Linked DNA regions of Homo sapiens: regions 2 and 3 are each linked to region 1. The links come from fine-mapping of genetic effects on gene expression. A gene starts in region 1. Each other region holds a variant in brackets. All regions are shown on one strand. Distances are from middle to middle. Region 1 holds the start of CD300LF (CD300 molecule like family member f). Region 2 holds the start of CD300H (CD300H molecule (gene/pseudogene)). Region 3 has its middle 11 kb from the start of RAB37-AS1.

Evidence for each region.
Region 2: its variant is fine-mapped to the expression of CD300LF in whole blood (TOPMed, PIP above 0.99).
Region 3: its variant is fine-mapped to the expression of CD300LF in whole blood (TOPMed, PIP above 0.99). The same link has a PIP of 0.9 or more in blood mononuclear cells and monocytes.

Annotation. Positions count from the first base shown.
Region 1 is chr17:74,711,460-74,714,221 of GRCh38, forward strand. CD300LF (CD300 molecule like family member f) reads right to left here and starts at 1,464. Exons shown (of 7, transcript NM_139018.5): 1 at 1,365-1,464. The coding sequence starts at 1,407. It also overlaps a transcript of RAB37 not described here.
Region 2 is chr17:74,566,208-74,568,969 of GRCh38, forward strand. It overlaps CD300H (CD300H molecule (gene/pseudogene)), which reads right to left and starts at 1,302. Exons shown (of 4, transcript NM_001405511.1): 1 at 1,142-1,302. RefSeq lists an enhancer at 2,649-2,762. The variant G/A (reference allele first, on the strand shown) is at 1,340.
Region 3 is chr17:74,687,146-74,689,907 of GRCh38, forward strand. It overlaps a transcript of RAB37 not described here. Among named protein-coding and RNA genes, the nearest start is that of RAB37-AS1, 11 kb to the left of the region's middle. The variant C/G (reference allele first, on the strand shown) is at 1,741.

The DNA of each region.
Region 1 (2,762 bases):
GGGCCAAGTGTCCATGAGCCACTCCCTGCTCTTCCTGTACCAGCCTAGCAGTCCTGGACAAGTCACTTTCTTCCCCAAGACCTTTTCTCCAATCTGTCCCACCAGGATCTTCTGAAGCATGAGGCAAAGCCGTGCTGACCTCCCTCTTCCTCAGACGTGCCCAGTCCAAGCTCATTCCTACACAAGAGCCCTCGTATCTACTGTTCCCTGTGCCTGGAAAGCTGGTCCCGATCCTGTGTCTGATCCTTTTCCTAGGTCTCGGCTCGGACAGGCATCTGGGACCCTCTTCAGGGGGGTTGTTTCAGCCCACCTGACTTACAGCATCCCCCTACCTGGGTCCCACTGTAACATATCATCTTGTTCTGTTTTCCTCACAGTACTTATCACTTCTCACTTCTTGAAATTATTTTTTTGTTTTCTTTCTTTTTTTTTCTTTTTTCTTTTTTCTTTTTTTTTTTTTTTTGAAACAGAGTCTCGCTCTGTCACCCATGCTGGAAGGCAGTAGTGTGATTACAGGTCACTGCAGCCTCCAACTCCTGGGCTCAAGTGATCCTCATGCCTCAGCCTCCAGCCTCCCAAGTAGCTGGGACCATAGGCACATGCCACCATACCTGGCTAATTTTTGTACTTTTTGTAGAGACAGGGTTTCCACATGTTACCCAAGCTGGTCTCGAATCCCTGAGCTCAAGCAATCAGCCTCCCAAAGTGCTGGGATTACAGGAATGAGCCTCTTTCCCTGGCCTCCCTTCATTTTTAATAAAAATTGTATGCACCAACTTAAGGTGTCTCCTGCCCTCTGGCTCTGCCCACATCTCAGTCCCTCCTTTCCTCTACGTCCCTGCCAGTCTTATCTCCTCTTGACCTTTCCGTCCCTCAGCAACTTCTACTATTTCCTTCTGCCCCAAATGCCTAGAACCACCACTCCCTCTCTGCCCAGCAAACTCCCTCTTCCCTCCTTTCAAAGTCCTCCAGCCTCACCTCTTCCCTGACGCCTGCCCTTGCTCAGAACACCTCCACGCAGGTGACAGATCACCCAGTCCAGGATCAGGCAGTCGCCTGCTCTCCTGAGCAGCCCATGTTCCTCCTCTGCTTTTCCCTGGCCGGCGGGGCCTACAGTCTGTCCATTTCACATGATCAGCCCCTGGGGGTCAGGAATTCTGCCTTGCACTGGCTTCATTATGAAGGTCATGCCCTGTATTCCTGCCTTGGCAACGGAAATGCTAGGTGAATGGTGGGTATGTGGATGAAACGCACAAGGCTCATGCCATTAAGGACACCTTCTGGCCGGGTCCCTTCTTCCCTCTCTCAGCCACCTCCTCCTGCTTGCTAAGCTTCCCCAAGAAGACAGACCCAGGCCCGCTCACCTGAGAGCCAGAAGAGGAGCAGGTAGAGTGTCAGCAGGGGCATCTTCTCTTCAGACAGGTCCCCGTTCCCCTCAGTGGAGCCTGGCAGCAGGAACAAACTACAGACTCCCAGCCTTCTGCTGGTACTCACTCTCGCCCTTGAACTTCCTCCTTCAGTCACTTCCCATGGGTGAAAGAGACTAAAAGAGGAAGGAGGTGGTTGGTTGGGCACCGTGGCTCAGGCCTGTAATCCTGGCACTTTGGGAGGCCAAGGCGGGCGGATCACGAGATCAGGAGTTCAAGATCAGCCTGGCCAACATAGTGAAACCCCGTCTCTACTAGAAATACAAAAATTAGCCAGGCGTGGTGGCGCACACCTGTAGTCCCAGCTACTCAGGAGGCTGAGACAGAAGAATCGCTTGAACCTAGTAGGCGGAGGTTGTAGTGAGCCGAGATCGTGCCACTTGCACTCCAGCCTGGGTGACAGAACAAGACTCTGTCTCAAACAAAAACAAAAAAAAAAAAAAAAAGAGGAAGGAGGTGGAAAGGGTGAAATTTCGAGGCAGTTGACAATGCAAGGGGTCACAGGAATCATCAGCTTCTGAGAAGTACCTCTCTGTACACAGCCACCGTGGGTTCTCTAAAAAGAGAACTTCGTGGCTCCTCTGTCATGTGGAAACCTGCAGACAGATCCACTGGGTCTGGCCAGCCCTTATCCAATCCTCCAAACCTGGTGGGTTGGCTGGGGGCAGGGGCACGCGGCTCCACCAGAGGGGTCCTGGAGAGCCACGGCTGATAGACACGATGTCCTAAACCTGGAGCTTCAGGTGTAGCCAGATGCTTGGGAGCCCAGAAGGCCAGAAGTTCAAGAGGATTGAGGGGCACTTGTGGCCAAAGTCAGAAAGCCAGAGGAGAGATTCCAGACCAAAGGTTGGAAGGCAGCTATGAGGAGATTGGGTATCCAACCCCAGACTACAAGGCCAGGTACGGTGGCTCACACCTGTAATCTCAGCACTTTAGGAGGCTGAGGCAGGAAGATCACTTGAGGCCAGGAGTTCAAGACCAGCCTGGGCAACATGGCAAGGCTTCATCTCCACAAAAAAAAAAAAAAAAAAAAAAAAAAAAAGTCAGGCATGGTGGCTCATGCCTGTAATCCCAACACTTTGGGAGGCCAAGGTAGGCAGATCACTCCAGGTCAGGAGTTAGAGACCGGCCTGGCCAAAATGGTGAAACCCCATCTCTACTAAAAAATACAAAAATTAGCTGGGCGTGGTAGCATTCACCTGTAATCCCAGTGACTCGGGAGGCCGAGGTAGGAGAATCACTTGAACCCAGGCGGCAGAGGTTGCAGTGAACCCAGATCGCACCACTGAACTCCAACCTAGGCAACAGAGCAAGACTCTGTCTCAAAAATAATAA
Region 2 (2,762 bases), 150 kb before region 1:
GTTGAGGTCCACGAGCTTTCCCAGGGAGCTAACTGCCTGCCAGGCACAGGCTTAGGAGCAAGGAAGGGGTGGGCACACCCAGTCCTCTCCTGAAATCGCTGCTGCTCTCAGCTCAGGCTCTGGGGGCGCTGTTAGCCTGCTCTTTCAGGTCCTTAAACTTCTCTCTTAATGATTTGGGGCTAATTCCACAAGGAGCAAAAACATTGTGGGGCACACACTGAATCCCACCACAGAGCCTCCCTCTCCTTGGATATTCAGTCCAGACCCTGACTCTGAGCCAACATGGGCAGCCTCCTCCACCTCCACCCCCACCATCTTTTACGGAGCTTCCCGCCTACCCAGCCTTGCAAAGAAACTGACTTTCTCCCTCCACCATCATTTACGGAAACTCTCGGACCAGGGCTGACCACAGGTTCCCAGCTGTCTCACCCTTCTGGGGGCCCATTAAGTAGCAGCCCTGGGGCCAGCCCAGACCTGTGGGGACACCCAGGGTTCCCACGTGGGGATGCAGCATATGCCTCCAGATATGTAAGTGAAGCTTTACAAGGAGGCGCAGCAGACATTGACATTGAATTAGAGAAGGAGCAATGATCTTGGAAATAAAAGTATTTAGGTTTGGACCTTGACTGTGCCTTTTATAAACTGTTTAATCTAAATTATTTGCACCTCTAAGAGCGAGCTTCGGTCTCTTGTTTTCATCAGGATTGCAATAAGAATTAAATGAGATAGTGGGAAACAAGATATGTATTACAGTGATTAGCCTAGTAAGTACTGGTTTTCTGTCCCCTATTCCCCCTTCTCTCTGATGGATCGTGGTGGCATTCCTGATCTTAATAATGACGGTAATAATGATTAAAGTTGCCAAATCTACTTAGGGCTTACTGTGTGGGAAGCAGTTTACCGTTTAATCCCCACCCTATCCCGATAAGGAGATTTGAGAAGCTTCTATGCACACCTCACTCCCTCTTTCTTGATATCATTTCTTCCTCTTGCCCCTCGCCAGCCTTTTCTCATGCCTGCCTCACCCTGACCCGCCAGAGCAGACCTCCCTGCACCCAGGACCTGCCCTGCTCATCTGGGACACAGAGAAGGAGCAGAGCTGAAGGCAGCATGGCAGCCCCAGCCCTCTGGGTCATCTCACCAGCATGGAAGTCCCTTGTGGCAGCAGGGTCTGAGGCTCTTTTTCCTTCTCACATCTCTCGTTTCCTTCTCTGGCCTCTTCTGGGTTTGGTTCTCAGAGCTGGTGAGAGTATGGAGGAAGCTGGGGCCATGGGGCACTATGTGGTCAGGTGAAACAATTTTGAGAACTTGCTGAAGTTCTTCCTAATAAAACATGTTT[G/A]CATTTGCTGTTCCTCTTTCTGTTCCCAGTAAAGACAATGTCCCTCCCATTACCCACAGCTGACAGGCCTGCCCTTCTCCAAATCACAGCATGGCCCAGGACCAGTGAGACTGGGCCAGCTGCCATCTGGATTTTCTGGGCAGGTCCTCCCCTCTGTGAATGGCCAGTTTTCTGTGGCCAGCATGAGCCGCCCCAGGGTATGGCTCAGCCTTCACTGGATGGATGAGACTGGCTATTTGCAGAGCCCAGTGTAAAATCAAACCTAGGTTTCCAAAATTATTAAGAATTTCAAGATGGTGACAGCCAAGCATGAAACGTGGGACCCTTCTAAGAGCCGGGCCTGCGAGACTGCACAGGGTAGGGGCACACCCACGATGCCCGCTGGTCTATCTCTGATCCTTGGTGGTACAGATAGGCTGGGTGCAACCTCAGAGGCTCTGACCTCTTAACCCCTCACTCTTGCTCTGACCTCAGCAGACCCCAGAGGTCCCTGTCTTGGCCACGTGCCTGACTGTTTCCACAGACCTGGCACCACGCAGAGCTTGGTGGACCATCTATAAGCCTTGCTTTTGACCTGTGTGGCTCTTCCTGTCGCCCAAGATGACCACATATAAGAGTTTCAATATATCAAGAGCTAACTCGGGGGAACCTGGCCAGAAGTGTGCCTGATATACACAGAATGGCTGTGGAGGATTTATAAATGCAAGCACAGCTTCAGAAGGCCTCACTCAGGGACTTAGATTTCTGGAACTAGGAGACTCCAAATTCCTGGCATTCTGTTATCAAATGTCTCCTCCTTGGTGTTTCAGTAAATGTGTTTCCTGCTTGTTCATTTTTTGCTGCATGTGGAGTCCTCATATTTCTGTGTGTGTTCACATGTGTGTATATGGGTGTGGTATGAGGGATATATGTGTAGTGTGTGTGGTGTGGGTAGTGTGTGTAGTATGTGTGGTATGTGTGTATGTAGGTACATGTGATGTATGTGCATGGTGTGTGGGATGGTGTGTGTGTAGTGTGTGTGTATGTGTGGTGTGAGTGGTGTGTGTGAGATGTGTGTAGTGTGTGTGTATGTGTGTGGTGTTTGGGGTCGTGTGTGTGGTGTGAGTGGTGTGTGTGGTGTGGGTGGGATGTGTGTAGTGTGTGTATGTGTGTACATGTGGTGTATGTGTGTGATGTGTGGGGTGGGGTGCATGTAGTGTGTGTGTTTGCATGTGTGTGTGGTGTGTGTGCACAGGTGGTGTGTGTGTAGTGTGTATGTGTGTGCACGTGTGTGGTGTGAGATGTGTGTACATGTGGTGTATATGTACAGTATGTGGGGTAGGGTGTGTGTAATGTGTGTGTGGTGTGTGTGATGTGAGTGGTGTGTATGAGATGAGATGTGTGTAGTGTGTATGTGTGTACGTGTGTGTGGTGTGTTGGGTGG
Region 3 (2,762 bases), 24 kb before region 1:
CAGAAAAACAAATGAGTCAGTCACCTTTTCTTTTTATTTATTCAGTTTATTTTATTTATTTATTTTATTTTTATTTATTTATTTATTTATTTATTTGAGATGGAGTCTTGCTCTATCTCCCAGGCTGGAGTGCAATGGCACGATCTTGGCTCACTGCAACCTCCATCTCCCAGGTTCAAGCAATTCTCCTTTCTCGGCCTCCCAAGTAGCTGGGATTACAGGGGCCCGCCACCACACCCAGCTAATTTTTGTATTTTTAATAGAGATGGGGTTTCACCATGTTGGCCAAGCTGGTCTCAAACTCCTGACCTCAGGTGATCCACCTGCCTCGGCCTCCCAAAGTGCTGGGATTACAGGCGTGAGCCACCACACCCAGCCAAGTCACCCTTTCTTGATGCAAGAGTTGCAGACCCTCAGGACAGAGCCATGTGAGGATATGGTCACAGTGGACTACTTTGGGGAAGGGGCTTGTGCTGGGGCAGGGGGAATCTGATTGCTTCAAGGGTCCCTTTCACAACTACTGGAGAGCTCCACAGCTCTCATTAGTGACAACCTTCATCAGCCTCCAAACAAAGAGGGTCACTAGAGGCCCTCAGGGGAAGCCTCACTACACCAGCGGAGATGTGATGGAGCGGGTCCATGCCTGGAGAACAGTGTGAACCGGATCCATGGCTGCCAATTCTCAGTCCATACCTAAGTACCAGCCCCTGACAAGTACCAACTGATGTGTAGGAAACGATACACACACATCAGTAGATGTTGGCATAAAGTTACCAACTGTCCTTTCTTAGGAAATACTGTCTATTATCCTGAGACTTGGGGTGCTCAAAGCTCCTTTCTTTTATGAAATTATGGTGACAATGGATTGTTGAATAGAAACTTTGTTAAGCAACCCCTCACTTAACCAACTTATTAGGTCAACCAATACCCTTCAGTCTCTTACTGGAGCACACTGACTAAGCCTGAGGCACAGAGTGCTCACAGCTGGCAGGCTCTTCTCTGCTCTCACAGTTGTGGTACCTGGTTAACAAGAATGCATTTGGGCCCATACTTGCTTATGCTGGTCATACGTGTTAACTAGAATGATGTACTTGAATCAATTCACCTGTAAACAAAGGAATTGGCCGGGCGTGGTGGCTCACGTCTGTAATCCCAGCACTTTGGGAGGCCAAGGCAGGGGGATTACCTGAGGTCAGGAGTTCGAGACCAGCCTGGCCAACATGGTGAAACCCTGTCTCTACTAAAAAATACAAAAAAATTAGCCAGGCATGGTGGCAGGTGCCTGTAATCCCAGCTACTTGGGAGGCTGAGGCAGGAGAATTGCTTGAACCTGGGAGGCTGAGGTTGCAGTGAGCTGAGATCACGCCACGGCACTCCAGCCTGGGTGACAGAGAAAGACTGCACCTCAAAAAAAAAAAAAAGAAAAGAAAAGAAAAAGAAAATACAAAGGAATTTAAACAGAAAGACTATTGACCAATAAAATAAGAGTGTAAAAAAAAAGAGAACGGTTATCTCTACAAAAACTAAACTGCTTTGGAAAGACACTATAAAAGCCTGTCACTTTTTAAAATGCTATCAAATTAGGAATGAATGAGAGAACTGTAAAATATCGGAAAGAAATGCATAAAAATGAAGAAAGATTTTGCAATCAGGTGGCTTCATAAGTTTCTAGAATTTCTTGCTTCATGTTAAAGAAACTGGAACTGAAACCCCAGGATCATGTGTGTGTGGTTTGTGCTT[C/G]AGGAAAGGCAATGGGCCCCACTTTTCAGCAGACTTGTAAGCAAAGCAAAGGCTTTAGGTCTACATCAAAATACTTGCTAATAACTACACATTTAGATATTTTAAGTCAAAATAAAACATGTAGAGGAAAAATAGCCTTGGCGCAGTGGCTCAAACCCGTAATCTCAGCACTTTGGAAGGCTGAGGCAGATGGATTACTTGAAGTCAGTTCAAGACCAGCCTGGCCAACATGGTGAAACCCTGTCTCTACTAAAAATACAAAATTAACCAGGTGTGGGCGAGTGTGGTAGCTGACACCTGTAATCCCAGCACTTTGGGAGGTCGAGGTGGGCAGATCACCTGAGGTCAGAAGTTCAAGACCAGCCTGACCAACATGGTGAAGCCCCGTTTCTACTAAAAATACAAAAATTAGCCAGGCATGGTGGCACATGCCTGTAATCCCAGCTACTTGGGAGGCCGAGGCAAGAGAATCGCTTGAAGTCGGGAGGCAGAGGTTGTGGTGAGCCAAGATTGCGCCACTGCACTCCAGCCCGGGTGACAGAGCAAGACTCTGTCTGGAAAAAAAAAGAAAAAAGAAAGAAAGAAAAGAAAAAATACAGTATATCTCTTTTATGAGTTCCGGGTTTAACAAACTTTTTCAATGAACTGACCAATTACCAATTCCTGTGAAATTGAATAAGAATTTACCTACTTGGTTCAGACATATTTGACTTTGGCAAAGAAAACTGAAAAGCTAAAAAAAATGTGCCTACTTGGTAGAATAAAAGGCTGATCACTGTATCTGTCCTTGCCAATCTAAAAAATTTATTGGTACATGAAATCAACCGATTCCAGCAGTCTCCCCTTTCCAAGGCTAAGCAGCTTTGAGCTCTATTTTTCAAGATGTCAAGCAAAGGTAGCCTTTCACCTCACTTGAGTGCAAATTTATCTTACTCATGGATTTTGGAGGTTGCCAACTCAGTAGTTTTTTTTTCTCCCTCAACTACTCTCAAACAGTACTATCTTCTGAAAGCCAATGATAT